6 separate regions of the Homo sapiens genome follow, and all the other regions are reported to be linked to region 1. Evidence: microRNA targets listed by miRTarBase, many of them from high-throughput screens and not tested one by one. Region 1 holds a microRNA gene; each other region holds the end of a gene's coding sequence. Distances are between the middles of the regions.

Region 1 (4,087 bases):
CTAAGGTGAAAGAATCACTGGAACTCCACGGTGAGTGGAGATCCTGCCACTGCACTCCAGCCTGGGCGACAGAGGTGGGAGTTACAGTGAGTGGAGATCCTGCCACTGCATTCCAGCCTGGGCGACAGAGCCAGTCTCCATCTCAAAATAAAATAAAATAAATAAAATAAAACAAAATAAAATAACAGGCTGGGCACGGAGGCTCACACCTGTAATCCCAGCACTTTGGGAGGCCGAGGCGGGTGGATCATGAGGTCAGGAGTTTGAGACCATCCTGGCCAACGTGGTGAAACCCGGTCTCTACTAAAAATACAAAAATTAGCTCGGCATGGCGGTGCGTGCCTGTAATCCCAGCTACTCAGGAGGCTGAGGCAGGAGAATCGCTTGAACCACGGAGTCGGAGGTTGCAGTGAGCTGAGATTCCGCCACTGGACTCCAACCTGGTGACAGAGCGAGACTCCGTCTCACACACACACAAAAATAAGAATTAATAATAATAATAGAGCAAGACATGACCCCAAGAGATCTAGTTTGGAGTGCAACCCCTCCCTCTCCAGCCTGGGCAACAGAGACTGGTCTTGGAAAAAAATAAAACCAAAACAGAACCCTGCCGTCATCCAAGCCTGATAAGCATGCTCTGCGAATGTATTACCAAGATCAGCATCAACTTCAACGTTGCTTTTCTCAAACCGTAACACTCTAAAGAGAAGCGCTTTGTTTTCTTTCAGACAACAGAAAGTGCTTCCCTCCAGAGAGTCACAGCATGAGATCTTCTCGCTCCAGCCATCTGGGATTTTTGTTGAAATTTTCCTTGACCAGGTTAAGATGGACACAAATATAAAGATGCATTTATTCGCTGTTTGACCGTTTTCTGGAATCCAGAACATAAACCTCTAAAAGGACAATCTCCAGGCTCAGCAGATTAGCCTTGTTCATCAAGGGGAATCCTCCTAAGTTTTGTCTCCAAGGAGAAAAAGCAATGCCCACTACACATACCTTACCTTTAACCAAGAGAATTGAGGTGGATTTCTAGAGAACAGCAATGGATTGAGTCACATGGTCACTTGAGTTCCAGCACAGGGACACACAGTCATGATGGGAGCATCCAAAATGGAATCTAAATTTGCCAGGCGTGGTGGTGCCCACCTGTAATCCCAGCTACTCAGGAGGCTGAGGCAGGAGAATTGCTTGAACCCGGGAGGCGGAGGTTGCAGTGAGACGAGATCGTGCCAATGCACTCCAGCCTGGGTGACAGGAAAGAAAAAAAGAATATGCATTGTCTTACACACAAACATTCTCCAGGATAGAGCACTGCCTAGGCCGTAAAAGCTCCTCAATAACATTTGTACAGAAGTACGGGTGGAGTGCAGTGGCTTACACCTCTAATCCCAGCACTTTAGGAGTCGAAGGCGGGAAAATTACATGAGCTCGAGTTCAAAACTAGCCTGCCCAACATAGTAAAACCTCATCTGTAAAAATACAAAAGATAGCCAGGTGTAGTGGTTCATGCCTGTAGACACTAATTCAGGAGGCTGAGGTGGGAGGTAGAGGCTGCAGTGAGTTGAGGTCACAACACTGCACTCCAGCCTGGGCAATAGAGCCAGATGGTGTCTCAAAAAAAATTAAAAAAAAAAAAAATACACAAACAAAAACAACCCCAAAGTGATATAAGAGTATTCTCTGTGTGCAGAAGACTATTTTGTGTGAATATAATTATACATAGAAGATTATATGATAACATGTATATATTTTGGAGACCCTGTCTCAAAAAAACAAAGTTCCATGTACTATATGCTCACATAAAGAATAATTCCTACATACTAGTGCTTGGGCAGCAAGAACGAAACTCCATCTCAAAAAAAAAAAAAAGAAAAAATCAAAACAAAAACAGAAGCCCACCATCATCCATCTCTGATGATAAGCATGCTCTGAAAATGTATTACCAAGATCAGCATCAACTTCAATGTTGCTTTTCTCAAACGGTAACCCTCTAAAAGGAAGCACTTTCTTTTCTTTCAGACAACAGAAAGTGCTTCCCTCTAGAGGACGACAGCCTGAGATCTTCTTGCTCTGGCACTGTGGATTTTTTGTGGGAATCTTCCTTGACCAGGTTAAAATGGACGCAAAAATAAAGATGCATTTATTTGCCCTGTTTGCATGTTTTCTGGAATCCAGAGCATAAATCCCTAAAAGGACCATCTGCAGTTCTTTGCTTCAAAGAATCAGCAGGTTAGCCTTGTTCATCAACGGGCAATCCTCCTGAGTTTTGTTCCCAAAGAGAAAAGGCAATGCCTACTACACATACCTTATCTTTAACCAAGAGAATTGGGCTGGATTTCTAGAGAATAGCAATGGATTTTGAGCCAAGTGGTCGCTTGAGTTCCAGTACAGGAGCGCACAGTCCTCATGGGGGCATCCGAAATGGAATCTAAGATGTTGAAGAATATACACTGTTGTAGGCACAAACATCCTGCAGGGTAGACAACAGGCTACCCTGTAAACGCTCCTCAATAAAATCTGAGCAGAAACAGACGAGTATAGGTGGGGCACAACAGCTCACACCACTAATCCTAGCACTTTAGGAGGCCAAGGTGGAAGATCACCTGAGCTAAGGAGTTCGAGACCAACCTGGGCAACATGGGGAAACCACATCTGTACAAAAAAACCAAAAGTTAGCCAGGTGTGGTGGTGTATGCCTGCAGACAGCTATTCAGGAGGCTGAGCTGGGAGTTGGAGGTTGCAGTGAGCCGAGATCGCACCACTGCACTCCAGCCTGGGCGACAGAGTGAGACTCTGTCTCTAAAATGAATAAGTTAAAAAATAAATACATAACAATAATACAAAAATTAGCTGGGCGTGGTGGCATATGCCTGTAATCCCAGCTGCTCGGGAGGCTGAGGCAGGAGAATCATTTGAACCTGGGAGGCAGAGGTTGCAGTGAGCAAAGTTCCTGATACTGAGCTCCAGCCAGGGTCACAGAGCAAGACTCTGTCCCAAAAAAGAGGGCCACTTGAACCCAAGAGATCTAGGTTGGAGGGGCCACCATACTCCAGCCTGGGCAACAGACACCCTGTCTTAGGAAAAAAAACCAAAAAAACCCCACAAAACCCCAACATCATCCAAGTCTGATTATAAGCATGATCTCCAAGATCAGCATTAACTTCAATGTTGTTTTTCTCAAAGAGTAATCCTCTAAAAGGAAGCGCTTTCTCTTCTTTCAAGCAACAGAAAGTGCTTCCCTCTAGAGGGTCACAGCCTGAGCTCTTCTTGCTCCAGCACTGTGGGTTTTTTGTTGGAATTTTCCTTCACCAGGTTAAAATGGACACAAAAATGAGGATGCATTTATTGGCCCTGTTTGCATGTTTTCTGGAATCCAGAACATAAAACCCTAAAAGGACCATCTCCAGTTCCTTGCTTCAAAGTCTCAGCAGGTTAGCCTAGATCATCGAGGGACAATCCTCCTGAGTTCTGTCTCCAGAAAAAGCATTGCCTACTACACATACCTTACATTTAACCAAGAGAATTGGGCTGGATTTCTAGAGAACAGCAATGGATTTTGAGCCAAGCGTTCACTTGAGTTCCAGCACAGGGACACACAGTCCCGATGGGAGCATTCAAAACTGAATCTCCCATGTTGAAAAATATACATTGTTGGCCGGGCGCAGTGGCTTATGCCTGTAATCCCACCACTTTGGGTGGCTGAGGCGGGCGGCTCACATGAAGTCAGGGGTTTCAGACCAGCCTGGCCAACATGGTGAAAAAAAAAATACAAAAGTAACCGGGCGTGGTGACGGGTGCCTGTGATTCCAGCTACTCAGGAGGTTGAGGCAGAAGACTTGCTTGAACCTGAGAGGCAAAGGTTTGAGTGAGCCGAGGTCCTGCCACTGCCCTCTGGCCTGAGTGACAGTGAGACTCCATCTCAAAACAAATAAATACATGAATAAATAACATGCAAATATTAGCCAGGCATGGTGTCAGGCACCTATAATCCCAGCTACTCAGGAATGTGAGGCAGGAGAACTGCCTAAAACTGGGAGGTGGAGGTTGCAGTGAGCTGAGATCACGTCACTACACTCCAGCATGGGTC
Region 2 (4,087 bases), not on the chromosome of region 1:
GGCCGGGCGTGGTGGCTCATGCCTGTAATCCCAGCAATTTGGGAGGCCGAGGCGGATGGATCACGAGGTCAGGAGATCAAGACCATCCTGGCTAACACGGTGAAACCCCGTCTCTACTAAAAATACAAAAAATTAGCCGGGCATGGTGGCAGGTGCCTGTAGTCACAGCTACTCGAGAGGCTGAGGCAGGAGAATCGCTTGAACCCGGGAGGTGGAGGTTGCAGTGAGCTGTGATTGCACCACTGCACTCTAGCCTGGGTGACAGAGCGAGACTACGTCTCAAAAAAAAAAAAAAAAAAATGCTTTGATGTTGGTGGTCATCGGATCTCATAGAAATTTCAGGGGCCAAGCTTTTGTCACTTGGCCAAGTGCGTGTGTGTGTGTATGTGTGCGTGTGTGTGTGTGTGTCTGTGTGTACTTTTTGGTTTGTTTTTTTGCTACCAGTGCTACCAGCTGTAACACTTTAATGACTCTTTGTGGAACACCAGGGACCACTGCTCATCAACCACCTGGGGTAAGAAGAGTGGAAGGAATGAGTGGTTCAGAGCTTAGGACAGGTCTCTGAAGGGAGGAAGGGTTAATAACATCACATTGCTAAGTCTTTGCAAACTAGAAACATTTCAGAGTAATTGCTGATGTCATTTTATTTACAAACGGGTGTCGAATCCTTAATGATGGTGTCACCTCAGACTAAAAAAGATAATGAAAAAAGAGAAAGAAGACTTGAAGTTTGTGTTTGGGTGTTTTCCAGGTTATCCAAATATGAAAGTCAGTTCTACCAGGTCTCAAAACTACGGAACTAATGTTACATGTCAGAAAGTCTTACAAATGAGTACTTATGTTATGCTAGTTTTTCTTCTCTTTTCCTATTTTTTAAAGAACAAAGACATTCGTCTCACCCAGTAGACATCTAAGTTATAAAGTAAATGAAACTAGTGTTCTTTGCAATGCATTAGCAATGTTTCTTATTTATAGTTGACAAGTATTTGTCCTTTCCCTGTGCTACATATAAGAGCTGGACTGGGCTGGGCGTGGTGGCTCCCATCTGTAATCCTAGCACTTTGGGAGGCCAAGGCAGGTGAATCACTTGAGCCCAGGAATTCGAGACTAGCCTGGACAACATGGCAAAACCCTGTCTCTACAAAAAATACAAAAATTAACCAAGCATGTTGGTGCACACCTATAGTCCCTGCTACTTGGGAGGCTGAAGTGTAAGGGTCACCTGAGCCCGGCAAGGTCAAAGCTGCAGTGAGCTGAGACTGTGTCACTGTACTGCAGCCTGGGAAAGAGTGAGACCCTGTCTCAAAAAAAAGAAAAAAAAAACAAAACGGTGGACTGTCTTGTAGCACAAGTGAGCCTTGTTTAAGAGGCTAGTAGATAAAGAAGGGAAGCAGTAGCTTGCAGCCCCAAAAAGTCTTCATTGTCTTAGTAGCTTGGGCCATAATTAAAGCCATCCCACCTTTATAGTTTACGTAGATTTGATACATGTATACATATTTTATATATGGATATGTGTATGTGTTCTTTTTCTGGAGACCAGGTAAACAAGATATATAGATACAGATAGATATCCAAAATTATCAACCTGAGGGTATTGTTGAAGTTTTTTTTTTTTTTTTTTTTTTTGAGACGGAGTCTCACTCTATTGCCCAGGCTGGAGTGCAGTGGCGCAATCTCGGCTCACTGCAAGCTCCGCCTCCCGGGTTGACACCATTTTCCTGCCTCAGCCTCCCCAGTAGCTGGGACTACAGGCGCCTGCCACCACGCCCGGCTATTTTTTTTGTATTTTTAGTAGAGATGGAGTTTCACCGTGTTAGCCAGGATGGTCTTGATCTCCTGACCTCATGATCCGCCTGCCTCAGCCTCCCAAAGTGCTGGGATTACAGGCGTGAGAAGATATTTTTTAAAAGAGGAAAATGTTGGCTGGGTGTGGTGGCTCACACCTGTAATCCCAGCACTTTGGGAGGCCGAGGTGGGCGGATCACAAGGTCAGGAGTTCGAGACCAGTCTGGCCAATATGAAACCCTGTCTCTACTAAAAATACAAAAATTAGCTGGGCATGGTGGCAGGCGCCTATAGGTCTAGCTACTTGGGAGGTTGAGGCAGAAGAATCACTTGAACCCAGGAGGCGCAGGTTGCAGTGAGCCAAGATTGCAGCACTGCACTCCAGCCTGGACGACAGAGCGAGACTCTGTCTCAAACAAAAAAAAAGAAGAAGAAAATGTCTCTGTTAAGAAAATGTAAATTTGTCCTCTGAGAGACATAATTATGAAAATGAAAACTCAGTCACTCCTCAAAAGAGTATTTAGAATTTAGGTCCTAGACTTCAAATCTTTTAGAGTGATTAGAGATGCTTTTGTCCATGTCATTTTATAAATGAGTCCCTGGAATCTAAGAAAAGTTAAAGGACTTGCTAAAGGTCATACAGCTAATTGGTGGTAGAACCAAAATTAGAACACAGACTACAATTCTAGCCTACATCCCCCAACACTTCATACACATATGCAAATATTTTTACCTATGTAGTCAGATCCTGAGAACCATAATCATACTATTTAGAATCATGGCTGTATGCTATATAAAGTTGTTTTGTTAAAAATGGGTGTTTTTATTTGTTTGTTTGTTTTTTGAGACGGAGTCTCGCTCTGTCTCCCAAGCTAGAGTGCAGTGACATGATCTCGGCTCACTGCAACCTCTGCCTCCCGGGTTCAAGTGATTCTCCTGCCTCAGCCTCCCGAGTAGCTGGGATTACAGGTGCACACCACCATGCCCGGCTAACTTTTTTGTAATTTTAGCAGAGATGGGGTTTCACCATGTTGGCCAGGCTGGTCTCAAACTCCTGACCTCAAATGATCTGCCTGCCTTAGCTTCCCAAAGTGCTGGGATTACAGGTGTGAGTCACTGCGCCCAGCCTAAAAATCTTTATTGCAAGAATAAAGCTTCCATGATTATGGTTAAAAAGGGTTGTTTAACTAGCTGGCTTTAATCCATTAATACAGAGTGGTCTGTTATATTTATCTAATATTATATCTAAGCAGCTTTGTTGATGTCCCTGGAAGCAACTGCCCATATCATTATAAATTATATGTATCTCCTTTGAGATAAGTAAAACATAATCTTACAAAAGAGTAAACATTTTATTATTTGTACATGAATCAGTTTGGTCTGAGGATACACAAGCATCTGGCTAACTCATAAAAGTAGCCTGAAGTGATTGATAGGAGAGTGTTTGTAGTCATTTCCATTTGCTGCCACATCCCTTACATTATCTACTTGCTAAGCACTGAGAGGCCCAGAATGGACACATCAAACTGTCAGGAGGAACATATGGGACACTGGCACCTGCAATGGTTTTTTTAAAAGCAGAGAATGCAGAGCAGTCACAGACTCCACTTCAAAGCCAGGGTGTGTGGAGGTCTCCGGGGAAGAGCTCTGCACAACAGGTTTCCTGGGGGCCAGAGGGCCTCTCGGGGAGGAACAGAAAAAAACCAGCCAGGAGTGCTACCGACCAGCCTCAGCCAGAATGCTGTCAGAACAAGGCCCCAAACATGGCCTGGCCTCAGTGATCTGGGGATGAACGGTGTCACAAGGGAACCACCTGAAGGGTGGGCAGAGGCCCCCGTGGAGGAGCCACATACTCTTCCTCTCTCAGCAGCCGCAGCAGGATGTTTTTTTTATTCTTGGGCCAGCTGTAGACATGAGTGTTCTGAAGCCAGGTGGGCACATGCTCCTATGGGAGGCAGAATGACAGGAGCAAAGGTCATTAGAGAAAAACCTGGATGCCAGATCCCAGGCTCAGTTCCCAAACATTTCTGGCTTTCCCTACATGGGCGTTTCCTACCAAACTATCCTGGGAGTTGTGCTGTTTTGCTTTTGGAAAGGTTTAGCATGTGAAATGTTCTTGGCTTCGGGTACAAGCTGTATATCTCATTATAAAAACCACATGTGCACAGCATTTTCTGTCAGTCTCCCAGACTACCTACCCTTTGCATTTCAACTTGCTTTTCACCACCCTCACATAAAAGGGGTAGGACAGAGGTCACACAGAGTGATGTGAATTCCCCTGTGACTTCAGAAGAAGTATGCC
Region 3 (4,087 bases), not on the chromosome of region 1:
ACATAATCTTCCTCCCTGATAGCATATAAACTCCATGAAAGTAGAGACTCTCCTGGTCCTATTCGCAGCTGTAGCTGCAATGTCGCCTACTGAATAGCATATAGTAGGTATTCAATAAATAATAGATGCAATGAATTTAGTGAAAGAAGGGGACCTTGGGCAAGGCTCATTCAATATAACAGCATGCATTTAATAAAATAGTTATTATTTCCTAGTTCCTATGATCATCTTTCTAGCTCTGTTGTCTGAGAAAGCAAGGATTACATATAAAAATACAGTGTGTCTCAATGTAAAGGGTCATTTTTATTTCTGGTTACTGATCCTCTCCTCTTGGTCTCCTCCAACTGAAAAAGAAGAAAGGGGAGGAGGGGGAAAAGGAACAGCAGCAGTCACGCTTCAGTATAATTTTATACCAACTGTTTTAGAATAAATCTTTAAAATTGATAATATCCAATGTTGATGAGGTTGTGAAAAAAATAGTACATTGATAAACCTCTAGTGAAAATAAATGATGATAGCATTTATTAAGCAGTTACTACGTGCTAAATACTTTACATGCTTCATTTCATTTGGTCCTCACAACCCTATGGGATAGAGAACTATTATTGTTCCCATTTTAGGAATCAAGAAATTGAGGCTCAAGGAGGTTGAGTAACTTGACTATGAAAACAGTATGTTGACACACTTTTTATTTATTTTATTATTTATGTATTTATTATTATTATTTTTTGAGACAGAGTCTCACTTTTTGCCCAGGCTGGAGTACAGTGGAGTGGTCTCAGCTCACTGAAACTTCTACCTCTTGGGTTCAGGTGATTCTCGAGCCTCAGCCTCCCGCATAGCAGGGACTACAGGTGTGCACCACCATACCCGGCTAATTTTTGTATTTTTAGTAGAGACAGGGCTTTGCCATGTTGGCCTGGCTGGTCTTGAACTCCTGGCCTCAAGTGATCCACCTGCCTCGGCCTCCCAAAATGCTGGGATTATAGGCGTGAGCCACCGCACCTGGTCAGGCAGAACCCTTTTTTAAAGCAAAGGAAGTGATGTCCTAGAGCAATATTAACATTTATATCCTTTGACTCAGTCCAATCTTGCGAATTTGTTTTCTGGAGTAATTCAAAAGAAGAAAAGAACTACATGCACAAAGACCTTCAACACAGCATAATCTTAAATAGTAACAAAGTAAAACCAGGCCTGGCATAGAGGCTCATCCTATAATCCTATCACCTAGGAGGCTTAGGTGGGAGGATCACTTGAGCCCAGAAATTTGAGACCAGCTTGAACAATAGAGTGAGAGTGAGACCTCGTCTTTACAAAAAGTACAAAAATGAGCCAGGCATGGTAGCACATGCCTGTACTTGGGAGAGGCTGAGGAGAGAGGATCACTTAAGCATGGGAGGTTGAGGCTGCATGAGCAGTAATCAAACCACTGCACTCCAGCCTGGGTTACAAAGTGAGACCCTGTCTCAAAAAAAAAAAAAAAAAAAAAAAAGTAAAAACAGCTTAAATGCCAAACAAGAGAACGTTTAATTTATAGAACATCCACATCCTCAGAGATACTGAGCAGTACTGTTCCACCCTGATAGATGAAATGGATGTGAATGTTGCTGATCTTTTCTGAAGAAGCAGTCCCACTACACTAAAGATGAGCTGGAGACTGTTCACCTACTTTGTACTCCTGTTTGGAAATATTTAGGGGTAGTTTCTGTGTAATGGGGTTTATGTGAACTCTCTTCTCATACCCCCTCCCCCAGGAAAAGCTCTTGGTATTTTCCTATCCACTTTTATTTTATTTTATTTTATTTATTTTTTCGAGATGGAGTCTTGCTCTGTCACCCAGGCTGGAGTGCACTGGTGCAGTCTCGGCTCACTGCAACCTCTGCCTCTCGGGTTCAAGTGATTCTCCTGCCTCAGCCTCCCCAGTAGCTGGGACTACAGGCGCGCGCACTACCACACCTGGCTAATTGTTTTTGTATTTTTGTTAGAGACGGGGTTTCCCTAAGTTGGCCAAGCTGGTCTCGAACTCCTGACCTCAGGTGATCTGCCCACCTCGGCCTCCCAAAGTGCTGGGATCACAGGTGTAAGCCACCACGCCCAACCTCCTATCCACTTTTAAATAATGTATTGCTCTAAATCTTCTTCATTAAACATTTAAAACTTTTCCCATAAAAATAATTATAGAACATCAACATGATTGAATATCATATGGCGATTGAAAATGTTTCCATGGTATATACAGTAAATTAAAAATCAAACTGTGAAAATGAATATACAATATTATAATAACCACTTAGAATATATGTACTTGAATTAGGACCAAAAGGGAATAACTGTAAAATAAAATTAGTTGTGTTAAGACTGTGGTATTGGTGTAATCCCAGCACTTTGGGAGGCTGAGGTGGGTGGATCACCTGAGGTCAGGAGTTCAAGACCAGCATGGCCAACATGGTGAAACCTTGTCTCTACTAAAAATACAAAAATTAGCTGGGCATGGTGGCGGGCACCTATAATCCCAGCTACTTGGGAGGCTGAGGCAGGAGAATTGGTTGAACCTGGGAGGCAGAGGTTGCAGTGAGCGGAGATCATGCCACTGCACTTCAGCCTGGGTGACAGAGTAAGAGACTCCGTCTCAAAAAAAAAAAAAAAAGCTTATGGTATTATAGGAGGGTTTTTGTTTTTGTTTTTTGCTTTTTTTGAGACGGAGTCTCACTCTGTCACCCAGGCTGGAGTGCAGTGGTGCTATCGCAGGTTCACGCCATTCTCCTGCCTCAGCCTTCTGAGTAGCTGGGACTACAGGCACCCGCCACCACACTCGGTTAATTTTTTTGTATTTTTAGTAGAGACAGGGTTTCACCGTGTTAGCCAGGATGGTCTCGATCTCCTGACCTCGTGATCCACCCACCTCAGCCTCCCAAAGTGCTGGGATTATAGGCGTGAGCCACCACGCCCAGCATAGGAGGGTTTTTTTAAAAACAAAATTTGCTTTAATGTGACTGTATTGTTTTTACTGTTAAAAAATAAATCAGAAAAGATACCCATGATAATGGGAAAGAATGTTGAATTAACCCTACATGTGCTCTGCTGAAGAGAAACCTAAATAAATCATTGAACTAAAGTCAATATTTTGGTCAATACAAGGCATCTGAGGATATCAAACAAACTTGAGAAATCCATTTTTACAACTGCTTTAATGAATTTATCAGCAGTTTTGAAGACTCTTGGGTGATATCCATTTGGGATCTGTGGTAACTCTTCTCAATGTCATGGTCCACCTTTTGTCCAGGCTTTAAATTACCACTTTTGTTCAGTATAGCTTTAGGCACCAGTGATTTTATAGTTCTGACTTTTGGTCTTGTTCTTGTATACCATGTGTCTCCTTCAGAGAAGCCACATTTATGTATCCAGCCTCAGAATTCTGTGAACACACAAGATTCTCAGGAGACTTTTCAGGGGACTTTGAACTTGCCATTGCTTCTTTTGACTTGATCTCTTCAGTCTCTTGAAGACTTGCAAATGACTCTACCAAACCTTTTCCTGAAAAACTAAGAAATGCCATATGTGAGGACATCATGTACATAGAGTTTGTTGGTAGCAGTTCGGGGTTACAGGGATACAGGCATTGATAGAATTTCAATTTTTTGCAACTGTTACACAAAGCCAAATAAAATTTACCTTAAACCTATGTTCATATTTTATTTCCTACCTTAAGTCAGGATTCTGTGGGGTTTAGAGTTGAAGGAGTGGCAAGGGGAGGAATTGGAAGAAGATTCAAATAATTCATGTAGAGAAAATGACCCCAGAAAGCTATGCCTTCTCAAGCCAGCAATCCAGGACTAGTTAGGCAGCCATGACTCTCAGGCATGGCTGACAGTCCATCTCAGATAGACTTGACTTTATTTGTCTTGACTTTACTAACCTGGAGTTTGATAAAGGCAATATTTCATTCACTACTTCGGATTCAAGGATGTCACTAATTGTTGTTTCCTAAAAGGAAAGAAAGGATGAATGTGAAAAGTTATAATGATAAACCATTAGCTATATGATCCTAGAAAAAAATATATATATAATAGATACAATACCTGCACAT
Region 4 (4,087 bases), not on the chromosome of region 1:
AGAATGAACAAGAAGCAATAACCAAAGAGATAATGGCTGAAAATTTTCCATAAAGACTTCCACAGACTTCAACTCCCCAGATTGAAGGAACAAACTGAAGTCAGAGTAGGGTAAATAAAAATAAATATATATCTGGATATATCCCATTGAAACCACAGAATATAAAAAGCAAATCTTATAAATAACTGGAGAGAAAAGTCAGATTCACGGTGTTCTGTCAAAGTGTTCATGTAGACTAAGGGTGGGGAAACTTTCTGTAAAGGGCTGGAGAATAATTATTTTCAGCTTTGAGGCTTTGGTCTCTGTTGCAGCTGCTCACGCAACTCTGCTGTTGAAGTTTGTAGTGCAAAGTCAAGTCAACAAATGAGTGTGGCTATATCAGAAATTTTAATAAATAACAGTAAAACTTCATTTATTGACATGGAAATTTGAATTTTATATAATTTTATGTCATAAAATCTTATTATTCTTTGACTTTTCTCCAACCATTACAAAATATAAAAACCACTCTGTGGACTATACCTTGCTGATTCCTAACGCAGACTTCTAATGATGGGAATCACCACTTCTGAAATTGCTTTCTGTTAAGACTGTAGAATGAAGTCGGGCGAGGTGGCTCAGGGGTTGGAGACCAGCCTGGCCAACATAGTGAAACCCTGTCTCTACTAAAAATACAAAGATTAGCTGGGCATGGTGGCATGTGCCTGTAGTCGCAGCTACTGAGAAGGCTGAGGCATGAGAATCGCTTAAACCGGGAGGCAGAGGATGCAGTGAGCCGAGATCGGGCCACTGCACTCCAGCCTGGGAGACAGTGAGACTCGTCTCAAAAAAAAAACAAAAAAAAAAAAAACAAGGAGTAAAAAGTTGTTAGCTGCGATTCTGTGTTAATTGCCTGTTTGTTCATATTCAATGGTTTTTGTCATTTTTCCTTTTTCCTATGTTTGTTCTGATTATATTTATTGAAATGTAATTTTATGTCTAATTAATCTGATAAACTGTGGACTTGTATTCTGTATTTTTTTTTTTTTTGGAGACAGAGTCTCGCTCTGTCGCTCAGGCTGGAGTGTAGTGGCGTGATCTCGGCTCACTGCAACCTCTGCCTCCCGGGTTCAAGCGATTCTCCTGCCTCAGCCTCCTGAGTAGCTGGGATTACAGGTGCGCACCACCATGCCCGGTAATTTTTTTGTATTTTTAATAGAAATGGGATTTCACCCTGTTGGCCAGGCTGGTCTCGAACTCCTGACCTCATGATTCACCTGCCTCGGCCTCCCAAAGTGCTGGGATTGCAGGCATGAGCCACCACGCCCAGCCTCTGTATGTTTTTTATTTCATTTTTCTAGTTTTTAAAATTTTTATGTTATTTATTTATTTATTTTTTAAATAGGTCTCAGTCTGTCTTCCAGGCTGGAGTGCAGTGGTGCAATCATGACTCCACTGCAGCCTCCCAGGCTCCGTGATCCTCCCACTCCAGCCTCGCAAGTGGGTGGGACTACAGGCGCCCCACCATGCCTGGCTAAGTTTTTGTATTTTTTGTAGAGATGGGGTTTTCCCATGTTTCCCAGGTTGGTCTCGAACTCCTGGGCTCAAGTGATCCTCCCACCGTGGCCTCTCAAAGTGCTGGGATTACAGGCATGAGGCACGGCACCCGGCTAGTTCTTCTTATGAAAGTACTGGACCGTGATGGATTAGAAATGAAAACTGGTCCTTTACCATAGCTAGTTGGGGGACCACTGGTTTAGGAGTTCCTGCATCCAATGGGTGCCCCCTAAGTGCCTTGAATGGGGGATGAGGGTGGGAAGTCTGCGGGGCCTGGAAAGGTGGGAGCGAGAGCAAGAGTCTGGGTGTCCATTCCTCTAACTCAGAATCCTGAAGGCCCCGCTGTGTTGGGTGCTGCAGACAGTGGTTTGTGGGACCCGTGTTTTGGTGGGGGAGATAGACAGTACGGGCAGGTGCACCAACAGGGCCTCCCAACCCTTGCTCACTCAGCCAGCCTCTTGGTTGGCCGGTAGGGGAGACCAGCTCAGTGCCGGTTTCCTTCTCCCTCCCCGACAGTGTCATGGGAAGAGCCCTGGGCTACGTTCCTAATTCTACCTACCACCTGCTGGCTGTCCTTGGGTGAGTCAGTCCTTATCTGTAAAATGGGACGGAGGTAGTGAAGATTACAAGATATAACCCGTGTTCAGTGCTTAGCGCAGGGCCTAGTATATTTTCTTTTCTTTTTTTTTTTTTAAATAGAGATGGGTTCTCGCCATGTTGTCCAGGTTGGTCGCGAACTCCTGGGCTCAAGCGATCCTCCCACCTTGGCCTCTCAAAGTGCTAGGATTACAGGCTTGAGCCACCGTGCCCGGCCATCCTGGGGTCTTTCAACAAATTGATAACTGGTAGCTACTATGATCTCAGATTTCAGGTTTCTCAAAGATTCTGTTTCTTGTTTCGTAAGATTCTGAAATGCTGATGTTCCAAAATTCTGAGATGGTTTGTTTCTAACGTTCTGCATTTCTAAGTCTTTGACCACTGAGGGTGTCTGTCAGGCGCGGCTTCCTATGCCCTCTGCCCCCAGGTTCTCCCAACCTCTGGGACTGGGAAGGAGGGCAGTGGGTGGAGGGGGCTGGGCCATTGCCTTGACATGGCCCACATTCAGGGCTGGCTGTGGCAGCCCAGGGCCCCAGAGCCAGGCTGGAACTAGGATACCAGCCTCCAGGTCCCAGGCCTGCGTCATCTCTGCGTGCCCTCGGCCAGGGCCACCAGACAGAGACGGGCTGGTTGAGTCATCCAAGGGCTGGGGGTGGGGCAGGCTGTTCCGGCCGGCTCCTGGCTGGCAAGGCAGGAGTCCTACGCCCAGCTCTGCCCCTAACATGCCCCGTGCCCTTGGGCAAGCCTCAGCATCAGGGCTGCCACGCGTTCGGTGGTGCTCGAAGCCCTTCAGCGTCAGGGTCAGTCCTTGGGAGGGGGGCTGTGGTCAGGCTGGTGGGCTGGGCTAGCAGTGGCAGGACAGGAGGAGAGCAATTGCCTCTGGTGGAATTAATTACTCTTTTATTAGCACAAAATAACAGCAACCTAGCAGCCGCACGGCCCGAGAATAAGTTAAGGCACAGAGCAGGCGACGGGCGGCTTTCCCAGGGCCAGGCCTGCATGCCCCGAACTTCCTGAGCAAACTCCCTAGGGGCTGGGGTTTCGAGGGTCCTGGAGGGCCTCTTCCCTTGAGATGAGGGGAACGGAACAGGGCAAGAGGGGCGCCCCCATGGGCGCAAGGGGTCCACGCTGCGCCGCGATCACTTCTCGAAGTAGGGCAGGTAGAAGAACTGGAAGCCCCGGTGGCCCTTGACCGCGCAGTAGATGAAGATCACGTGATAGACTGCGGGGCGGGGCCTGTCAGCGCAGAAGCCCCGCCCCTCCCCGCAACACCGCCCCCAGTGCCGCCCCACAGCCCCCGCCCCTTCCGCCCCGGTGCCCGCTCGCACCTCCAGGCACCAACAACAGGAAGCCCGGCACGAAGAAGATGGCGCTGGAGACACCTGCGGGAGGGACCAGAGCCCGGTCAGGGCGAGGGGGCGGAGGCTTCGAGGCCTTCCGGGCTGCCGCTGACTGCCCGGGCAAGCCTCACTCCCAGCTGAAAAGGAGCCGTGTACTGCCGGGAGGTGGGAGGGCTTGCCGTGGACCCGTGGACACAAGACAGGGGTGTCCTCTGCCTGTGGGGGCGGGAGGGTCGCTCACCTGGAGAGGGGGTCGCCTCCAGTCCCACGCCGACCAGGATCAGCACTGCACACAGACGGAGCCGCGGGGGTGGGGGCAGGAGCAGTGGTGAGGGCGGGGGCTCCCACCCCCAGCCCGGCTCACCCACCACCTGAGCTGAAGGTGCCCTAGGCAGAGACCCTCCCCAGGAAGCTCACCAAGCTCTGTTTCCAGAGCAAGGCACTGAGCAGGCCCTGGGAAGTGTGTGAAAGGAGAGATTTTTCTTTGTTCCTTGGGGTGGGCTTTTAGTCATTCAGCAAACATTTATGGAACACCTACTGCGTGCCTGGTACTGGGAATTCCGCCCTGAAGGGCAGATAAGGTCCCTGCCCTCATGGCCCGTCCTTAGTGGAGG
Region 5 (4,087 bases), 34 Mb from region 1:
TCGGCTCCTCGTTGGCGGCGAGTCCGGGCCGAGGCTGCCAGGGACCCGCCCCGCACAAAGGTCGACCCCGCTGCGCCCTGGGCAGGCCGCCGTGACCGCCCTGCGTGTTCCCAGGGAGCCTCCAAGGCCCCTCCCCGGCCCTCCCCCTGGCAGCTGCCCCGCCCCTTCGCCCCTCACCATCGACACCCTCGTCTCCAATGGCCGTCCCGCTACTCAGCCTCAGTTTCCCTCACTGTCAAAGGCTGGGACACAACACCTCGGGATGCTTCTGCTCTTAGGCCAAGGGGTGCGCCCTGGAGGTCCTGGCGTGCCCCCTCTTTCCCCTGCCTCCACAACTTCGTTCTAAGGAAATTTTCTCCTGGACTCTGCGCTTCTAAACCTCTGCATTCCCCAGAGTTTCCCATCCCCACCCAAAGATCAAGTCGGCATTCCCTGTGCGCACGGATGGAGCAACCTCCAGCTCTTGGGTGCAAAATGCCTTTCAGTGGGCTTAGATTTGAGTTTTCATAAGGTGGCCACAAATGTAAACGTGTTTCCAGGCAGGTGTGAAGTTTTTTTGTTTGTTTTTTGAGAGGTCTCACTCTGTGGCCCAGACTGGAGTGCAGTGGCCCTCCTCCTTGAACTCCCAGCCTCAAGAGATCCTCCTACCTCAGCCTCCCAAGTAGTTGGGACTACAGGTATGCACCACCACGCGCAGCTAGTTATTTTTTGTAAAGACAGAGGTCTCACTTTTTTGCCCAGACTGGTTTCAAACTCCTGGGCTCAACAGATCCTCCCACATCAGCCTCCCGAGGAGCTGGGATTACAGGCGTGAGCCACTGCGAGGGGTCTTTAAGTGTGAGGCTTTGACTCCGGGGCTGTCCCTTTGCAGGCTAGTCCCGGGTTTAGGGTTCTTCATTTCGGGGAGAGGGTAGAAGGGGTCCTAGCGGGTGGGGGCTGAAGTTAGAATATCGGGATGGAGCCAGTTTGGTGAAGAGTTTGGGAACGGTGTTCCTGGCAGGGAGGAAAGTGGCTCAGGCTTGGAACTGAGCAGTGGAAAGGAGGTCGGTTCTGCTGGGGTGTGATGAGAAGCGAGACAGCTGTGAGAGGCTGTGGGAGGTTTTGAACAGCTGGGAGGGGGCCACAGTATTGGGGGGGAGAATAAGGAGACCATCTGTCTTTGTCACCCCCTCCAACCAGACTCTGGCCCATGTGGAGTACTTGTGGATGCTGCAGACAGCAAGGTGAACCATGCCCACCTGACGCCTGCCCTGCGGGACCCCAGTCTGCAGCTGGCACAAATTCTAACCACTGCCCCTACCTCAGGCCCCATTCTGCACGCAGCCCCTTAGCTTGATGCCAACTGGGTCACAGGTCTTCCTGAACTGGGCCACAAGAGGGTCTTCTGGCCGCAGGTCTGACTCAGCCTCCTTCCCCAGGTGTCCACTGCCCATGGGTGAAGTTCAGGTTCCCCTGGACTTTCCCCAACTCTAGCAGGGTCAACACCCCCCAGGCCTGCTTTCTGTCTGTAAAATGAGCCTTCTTGTAAGCGGGCCCCAGCATCCCCTCCTCCAGGCAGCCCTGCCTGCCACCCCCACCCCACCTTCTCCACACAAGGCCAGGGTGCCTGTGCCCAGCTCAGCCTAGGGGCTTGGCCTTGTCCCGTGTACAGGATGCACCTGCACACGCACACAGCACTTGGAGGCCTCGTCCCCTGGCAAGGGGTAAAGTCCATGCCCTGAGCCTGGTGAGCCTCCAGGTTGCTGAGAACTGAGAAGTGACTTGGATGGCTGAATGCCTGGGACCCAGTGCCAGGATTCCCTGAACCACTGGCTGCAGAGAACTACCCCGCTGTGCTCAGGGTCCTGGCCCACTGCCTTCTGGGCAGCCCTCATTCATGGGCACCCAGGCCAAGCCCACCAATGTTACTCTTTGCTCTGCCTCAGCCACAGCGTCAGGAAAGAACAAAGGGTGGTATATCACCCCAGCCTTGGCTCTGCCACTGCATCTGGCACCTCCCTGGTCTCAGACCCCACTGAGACACTCTGCAGACCGCCCCACCACGGCTCCCTGGTTCCTCTCAGTAGCAGCCTCAGACCTCATCCCCAGCAGCCTGGCTGACTGGAGTAGATCTTGTCCACCTGGTCCCCACACTTGGCACCTAGTGTTTGCTGAATGGCTGTGTGAACACAAGCTGGCCCAGGAGCCCGACTCCATGCCAAGCATGTGAATAGGGAGCCCCTGGTGCCTGCAGGGGCTGGGCAGCACCCACTGGGTGTGTGTGGAGGGGGTGGGGGCAGATGGAAATGCAAATTCCCAGGGCCCTGCCCAACCAGCTGACTCGGCAGCTGCAGCTTAACAAGATCCCCAGGGTGACTTAGGCACAAATGTGGGGCTCTGGCCCTGGGGCAGATGTGGGGGTCTTGGCACACACTGTGGCCTGGGCTACCCTCCTGCCTCAAAACCTCCGGCTCTGAGGCCCTTCCTTCTAGGAGCTGCCTGACATGTTGGCATGGCACATCCATGCATCCATGCGGCTGTCCCCTAACGACACAAGCCCCAGGGACTCGTGTGCCTACCACACTGGTGGGACCTGAAGGGCCACAGCCAACACCTGTGTGCTGGGCCGTGCCAGCACCACCTGCCAGGAGAGCACATGGGTGTGCCCAGAAGCCACCTGCCCCCACAGGTCTGAGGGAAGGTGGGGCCCTGCCTGGAGACCCCTCCCCAACCTCCCTCTGCAGCACAGTGCTAGGCTCGGAGGTTCCTGACATTCCTTTAGCCCAGGTGTGGCCAAGTCTCCAGCTTTATTATTATTATTATTATTTGAGACAGAGTCTTGCTCTCTTGCCCAGGCTGGAGTGCAAAGGCGCAATCTTGGCTCACTGCAACCGCTTCCCAGGTTCAAGCCATTCTCCTGCCTCTGCCTCCCGAGTAGCTGAGACGACAGGTGTGCACCACCATGCCCAGCTAATTTTATATTTTTAGTAGAGACAGGATTTCACCATGTTGGCCAGGCTGGTCTTAAACTCCTGACCTCCAGTGATCCGCCCGCCTTGGCCTCTCAAAGTGCTGGGATGACAGGGGTGAGACACTGCACCTGGCCTTCCAGCTTTACTATGCTGAAAACAACTTTCTTCCTCCCCTCCAGTGCAACCCAGGCTGAGCGGGGATGGAGACTCCACAGGCCAATAAGGAGAGCCCCGAGACAGCATCTTGCATCCCGCTGCTAACAGGAGGGGCTTCCTGCAACAGGACCAGGCATCTGTGGTGGATGAGCACTGGGACTTTATTACACGGCACGGCACTCGTGACAACGGAAGGGGTGGGCAGAAATGCAGGCCGGAACATTCCACAGTCCAGGGACGGTTGGTCATTCAGAAAGTATGTATTTCCAGAACACTCAGTAGTAAGGCCGTCTGGGATTGTTCTGTGGAAGGCAAAACAGATAACAGGAGGAGGGGATTAGCACTAAAGACAGCAGTTCCTCCTGTCTGGAACCTTCCGGAGGCAGCTGAGCCCGCACCCTTGAGGTGGCAGGGCAGGCTTGGGGGACGGGTGGGGGCTTGAATGCAGGTGGGTGGTAGGGGGCTCGCTGGTGAGACCCAGCCTGGCTGGACTGAGGAAGGAAGGGAGCCTTCTGTTCCTACCACCACCCTCTCCTGTCGACTGAGCAAAGGCAGCCCAGGAGGACATGCGTACCAGGGGGTTGGGCCGGAAGCGGTAGGCCAGCATCATCCTCTTGCGGAACGCCTCATACTCGTCGTCCTCCTTGGAGAGCTCCGCCGGCCGGTCAATGCCGAAGCCAGCGCCGTCCACTGTGGTGGTGCCCCTACAGGGAGAAGAGGATGTGAGCAGGGACCTGGGGCCAGAACTCTGGCCGGGGGGCCGGGCACAGCTGGGCTCTCAACAGCACCTCCCGCGGGTGCAGGGCTGGGCTGGGACATATCTGCACAGAGAGAAGCTTGAACCTGAATGGTCAAGGAGGGGAGACCCCCGGGGCGGGCGGGGGGGGGGGGCCTAGGCCCCAGGGTCCCACACAGGAAGGAGGAGCCCACAGTGCAAGTTGTCGCAGCTCTTGGGATGGCAGGATGGTTACTCAAGGACA
Region 6 (4,087 bases), not on the chromosome of region 1:
CCTCCCGAGTAGCTGGGACTACAGGTGCCCGCCACCACGCCCAGCTAATATTTTGTATTTTTAGTAGAGACGGGGTTTCACTGTGTTAGCCAGGATGGTCTCTATCTCCTGACCTCGTGATCCGCCCACCTTGGCCTCCCAAAGTGCTGGGATTACAGGCGTGAGCCACCGTGCCCGGCCGCTCATGCAGTTCTTATAGTTGCAATTCTTGTGCTCCATTGCCCCCATTTCCCTTTTGACTGTTAGCCCAGGGCCTCTCTCAGCTTCTTAAGGAAACTTCCATGCCTTTGTCCTGTGGCACTCACCACAGGACAGCAGCAGTGCATCAAACCCACTCGTGCTTCAAATCTGTCTGACTTCCTCGTGTGTGTGTGTAGACAGGGAGCTGCCAAGGGAGAAGCAGCCAAGCAGCTAAGAGTCCAGGAGATAATAGCGCCAAAGGGATCTGAGGACACTCAAAATGTGTCTAACACGTGAGGCAGGATAGGAGTGTATTATTCCGTTCTCAAACTGCTATAAAGAATACTACCCAAGACTCAGTAATTTATAAAGGAAAGAGGTTTAATTGACTCATAGCTCCACATGGCTGGGCAGGCCTCAGGAAACTTACAATCCTGGCAGAAGGGGAAGCAGGCATGTTTTACATGGCAGCAGGAGAGACTACCATGTATAAAACCATTGGATCTCGTGAGAACTCACAATCATGAGAACAGCATGGGGGATACCACCCCCATGATCCAGTCACCTACCACCAAGTCCCTCCTTCAACATGTGGGAATTATGGGGATTACAATTCAAAATAAGACTTGGGTGGGGACACAGCCAAACCGTATCAGGTAGTCAAGGAAATGACCATTTTCTCATGACCATACAGCCAACACAATAAACCTCAGCATTCACATTGTAATTGAGCTCATTTAAGCAAAGCTATCTTCAGTAGGGACTTTCCCTTCTAGAGAGCATACACATTTTGATTTTACCTGTCCTCAAACTGATCCTTTGCACATGATAATAATAAAAAACACACCTCTAGGTGGAAATTTAAGATGCTACTGAGACATGTGGTGTATGAACAAGCATTAACAGCTACTGCACCTGTGCAGAGGACCACCCAGGACATGATTACTGCAACACCTCACCTCCTTATGAATAATAATGCAAAACTCCCATAAAGGGAGTTTCTCCAGCAATAATCAATGCTGTCTCACCCTTACGAGCAGCCGGCCCTGAATTCTCTCTCTCAGGTGTACTGTCTGTTCTGCACCTAACTTTCAAAATACTCCTTTTCTTTTGCAATAAATTATGCTGCATCTCCTTTGCTGTCTCATTTAAATTCTTTTAAACCAAGAAGACAAGAACTGAGGTATCACAACAGCTGTCAACACATGCATTTTGCTTTATTCATTTGCTTTATCTTATGGATCTCTCCATTTTGTAGAGTATTCCATTGTATAGCTGTACAGTAATTTAGATAAACTTTTGTATTGATAGCCTTTTCTTTTGGAGATGGGGGTCTCACTCTGTCACTCAGGCTGGAGTGCAGTGGCACAATCACAGCTCACTGCAGCCTCAAGCTCCTGGGCTCATGCCATCCTCCTGCCTCAGCCCCTGAGTAGCTGGGACAACAGGTGCATGCCACCATGCCTTGCCGAGTTTTTGTATAGATGGGGTTTCACCATGTTGCCCAGGCTGGTCTTGAACTCTGGACTGGTCTGGACTTGAGATTCAGACCAGATCTGTAAGCCACTGCACCCGGCCTTGATAGCCATTTGTTTTCATACACAGCAGCAATTAGTAGCCATTTAAGATATCTGTGCGCCAGCCTACAAGAAATACAAATGTACAGGGTAAAATCCTAGCTGGATCAAATATGAGCTTTGTAAATTTTTAAAAACTTTTTTATTGAGTTGTGGTTTATGCCTGTAATCCCAGCACTTTGAGAGGCTGAGGCAGGAGGATCCCTTGAGGCCAGGAGTTTGGCACCAGCCTGAGCAACACAGTGGGACCCTGTCTACACACACACCCCACCCCCACACACCCCAATTCACATACCACAAACAAAAAAACTCCTAGAAATCACCTTGGCTCAGGCAGCTTCTTCAGATTCCTGAGACCCCATTTCCTGGATCATCACAACCATCTCACAGGATGCAATGAAAAGAGCTGTTAAGCACTTTGTAGACTTGGCTACAAATCTGTGCAGATTTGGTTGCAAAATGTTACTACCCTGACAAGAAGCCATGAACGCAGCCGGCACTGACTCAATATACTTCTGCCAAGGTCCCACCATCAAAACTGTCTTATTGAAGTTAACTTAAGGAAATTGTTATTTCTAAACTTCATATGGTAAATGAAAAATACTGAACAAGGCAAATAAAACAAGATAAATGAATTCCAGAAATTAACATTCAGTCAGTCCTAGGTATTGTTACTTTTTAGAGCATTAAGATACATTGCTATATTGTTGATTTAGCCAAGCTAAGATCCCTATAGTCAATCAAAATAGTTAAATAATTTTTTGTTTTTCCCAAAAATCATTATTTTTTGTTTTAGGATGTTGGCAAACACTGTAATGTGTTTTTTTTTTTTTTTGAGACAGAGTTTCGCTCTTGTCGCCCAGGCTGGAGTGCAATGACACAGTCTCGGCTTACCACAACCCCCGCCTCCCAGGTTCAAGCGATTCTCCTACCTCAGCCTCCCAAGTAGCTGGGATTACAGGCATGCGCCACTAGGCCTAGCTAATTTTTTGTATTTTTAGTAGAGATGGGGTTTCTCCATGTTGGTCAGACTGGTCTTGAACTCCAGCCTCAGGTGACCCACCCACCTTGGCCTCCCAAAGTGCTGGGATTTATAAGCATGAGCCACCATGCCCAGCCTGTAATGTAATTTATAAATACAGTAATGTAATTTATAAATAAAATGTCAACACAGAATACTAATTTCTTGTAGAAAATGTAGAAAATAGGCTGGGTGTGGTGGCTCACGCCTGTAATCCCAGCACTTTCGGAGGCCAAGGCAGGCGGATCACTTGAGGTCAGGAGTTCAAGATCAGCCTGGCTAACATGGTAAAACCCCGTCTCTACTAAAAATACAAAAATTAGCTGGGCGTGGTGGCACATGCCTGTAATCCGAGTTACTCGGGAGGCTGAGGCAGGAGAATTGCTTGAACCGGGAGGCGGAGGTTGCAGTGAACCGAGATCACACCACTGCACTCCAACCTGGGTGACAGAGCAAGACTCCATCTCAAAAGAAGAAAAAGAAAATGTAGAAAATATTTGATTTAAGTGACCTCCTAAAATTTAGAAATACCTAGGAAACATACAACTTCTCAAGATGCAGCAAAATTTACAAAATCATTTTTCAAAGTATCTCGATATAAACAACTCTCAGTTCCAATTTCAACTGGCTTGTCTTTAAAATATGATACTTGATGGCAAAGAATGGGATCTTTTAAGAGTTCTATAGTTTGGATCTATTTGAGAGTGCTGGATTGAACAAATGCAGCCCACAGAATTTAAAATGCAGACACTTGAATGTATAGGATCACCCAAAACAGAGAATTCTGAAGTCTTACGCCAGGGGTTGTTGAAAGGGAAATTCTCTTTTATAGGATTTTTTTCTTTATTCTCGTTTGAAGCAGTGTCTTTGTCTTCCAATGCCCGAGCAAGCATGTAGCTAACTTTTCTTTGATGAGCCAAAGCTTCTTCTTTATCATTAAGCTGCATGCACAGAAATTAAACATGTACAAGTTAGTCAATAAATCACAGAATATATTCAGAGAAAGGAGTATTGTACTATTTTATCAAGTTATTCAACCCTAATATTCATACTGATCTGTCCATCAGTATGAATAAATTAGGTATCACCTGATCCCCAAACATTATACTACATGTTATTCATGAATCTTTTTTTTTTTTTTTTTGAGACGGAGTCTGGCTCTGTCACCCAGGCTGGAGTGCAGTGGCACTATCTCCACTCACTGCAAGCTCTGCCTCCCAGGTTCACACTATTCTCCTGCCTCAGCCTCCCAAGTAGCTGGGACCACAGGTGCCCGCCACCACACCCAGCTAATTTTTTGCATTTTTTA

Evidence for each region. Region 1 holds the annotated microRNA hsa-miR-520c-3p (AAAGUGCUUCCUUUUAGAGGGU, at 1,986-2,007, opposite strand). A microRNA usually pairs through its seed, bases 2 to 8, with sites in the 3' UTR of a target mRNA and lowers its output. Matches are read on the target gene's strand: a 7mer-m8 pairs with bases 2 to 8, a 7mer-A1 pairs with bases 2 to 7 and ends in A, and an 8mer does both.
Region 2: miRTarBase lists TRAF3IP2 as a target of hsa-miR-520c-3p. Seed matches in the 3' UTR shown: 7mer-m8 at 2,875-2,881 and 7mer-m8 at 1,870-1,876.
Region 3: the mRNA of CCDC30 is a reported target of hsa-miR-520c-3p. Seed matches in the 3' UTR shown: 7mer-m8 at 2,915-2,921 and 7mer-m8 at 2,062-2,068.
Region 4: miRTarBase lists TMEM134 as a target of hsa-miR-520c-3p. Seed matches in the 3' UTR shown: 7mer-m8 at 2,312-2,318, 7mer-A1 at 1,767-1,773, 7mer-m8 at 1,613-1,619 and 7mer-m8 at 1,273-1,279.
Region 5: miRTarBase lists SUGP1 as a target of hsa-miR-520c-3p. Seed matches in the 3' UTR shown: 7mer-m8 at 3,047-3,053.
Region 6: the mRNA of CCDC125 is a reported target of hsa-miR-520c-3p. Seed matches in the 3' UTR shown: 7mer-m8 at 2,837-2,843.

The regions. Positions count from the first base shown.
Region 1 is chr19:53,705,426-53,709,512 of GRCh38, reverse strand. It overlaps MIR520C (microRNA 520c), which reads right to left and starts at 2,060; the gene lies at 1,974-2,060. It overlaps MIR526A1 (microRNA 526a-1), which reads right to left and starts at 3,261; the gene lies at 3,177-3,261. MIR518C (microRNA 518c) reads right to left here and starts at 778; the gene lies at 678-778. LOC107985346 (a long non-coding RNA gene) reads right to left here. Exons shown (of 5, transcript XR_001753998.1): 4 at 2,306-2,428; 5 at 1,204-1,244.
Region 2 is chr6:111,555,822-111,559,908 of GRCh38, forward strand. It overlaps TRAF3IP2 (TRAF3 interacting protein 2), which reads right to left. Exons shown (of 9, transcript NM_147686.4): 9 at 1-3,730. The coding sequence ends at 3,584. It also overlaps TRAF3IP2-AS1. Among named protein-coding and RNA genes, the nearest start is that of TRAF3IP2, 48 kb to the right of the region's middle. RefSeq lists an enhancer at 3,543-4,042.
Region 3 is chr1:42,653,273-42,657,359 of GRCh38, reverse strand. It overlaps CCDC30 (coiled-coil domain containing 30), which reads right to left. Exons shown (of 21, transcript NM_001395517.1): 20 at 3,917-3,984; 21 at 170-3,542. The coding sequence ends at 3,332. The region is part of intron 1 of LOC124904162 (a long non-coding RNA gene); the gene reads left to right. Among named protein-coding and RNA genes, the nearest start is that of PPIH, 3.1 kb to the left of the region's middle.
Region 4 is chr11:67,461,342-67,465,428 of GRCh38, forward strand. TMEM134 (transmembrane protein 134) reads right to left here. Exons shown (of 7, transcript NM_025124.4): 5 at 3,715-3,759; 6 at 3,462-3,515; 7 at 369-3,355. The coding sequence ends at 3,273. It overlaps CABP4 (calcium binding protein 4), which reads left to right. Exons shown (of 6, transcript NM_145200.5): 6 at 1-411. Among named protein-coding and RNA genes, the nearest start is that of TMEM134, 5.9 kb to the right of the region's middle.
Region 5 is chr19:19,273,266-19,277,352 of GRCh38, forward strand. SUGP1 (SURP and G-patch domain containing 1) reads right to left here. Exons shown (of 14, transcript NM_172231.4): 13 at 3,682-3,811; 14 at 2,768-3,409. The coding sequence ends at 3,383. It overlaps TM6SF2 (transmembrane 6 superfamily member 2), which reads right to left and starts at 36. Exons shown (of 10, transcript NM_001001524.3): 1 at 1-36.
Region 6 is chr5:69,279,316-69,283,402 of GRCh38, forward strand. It overlaps CCDC125 (coiled-coil domain containing 125), which reads right to left. Exons shown (of 12, transcript NM_176816.5): 12 at 860-3,719. The coding sequence ends at 3,414. Among named protein-coding and RNA genes, the nearest start is that of CDK7, 46 kb to the left of the region's middle.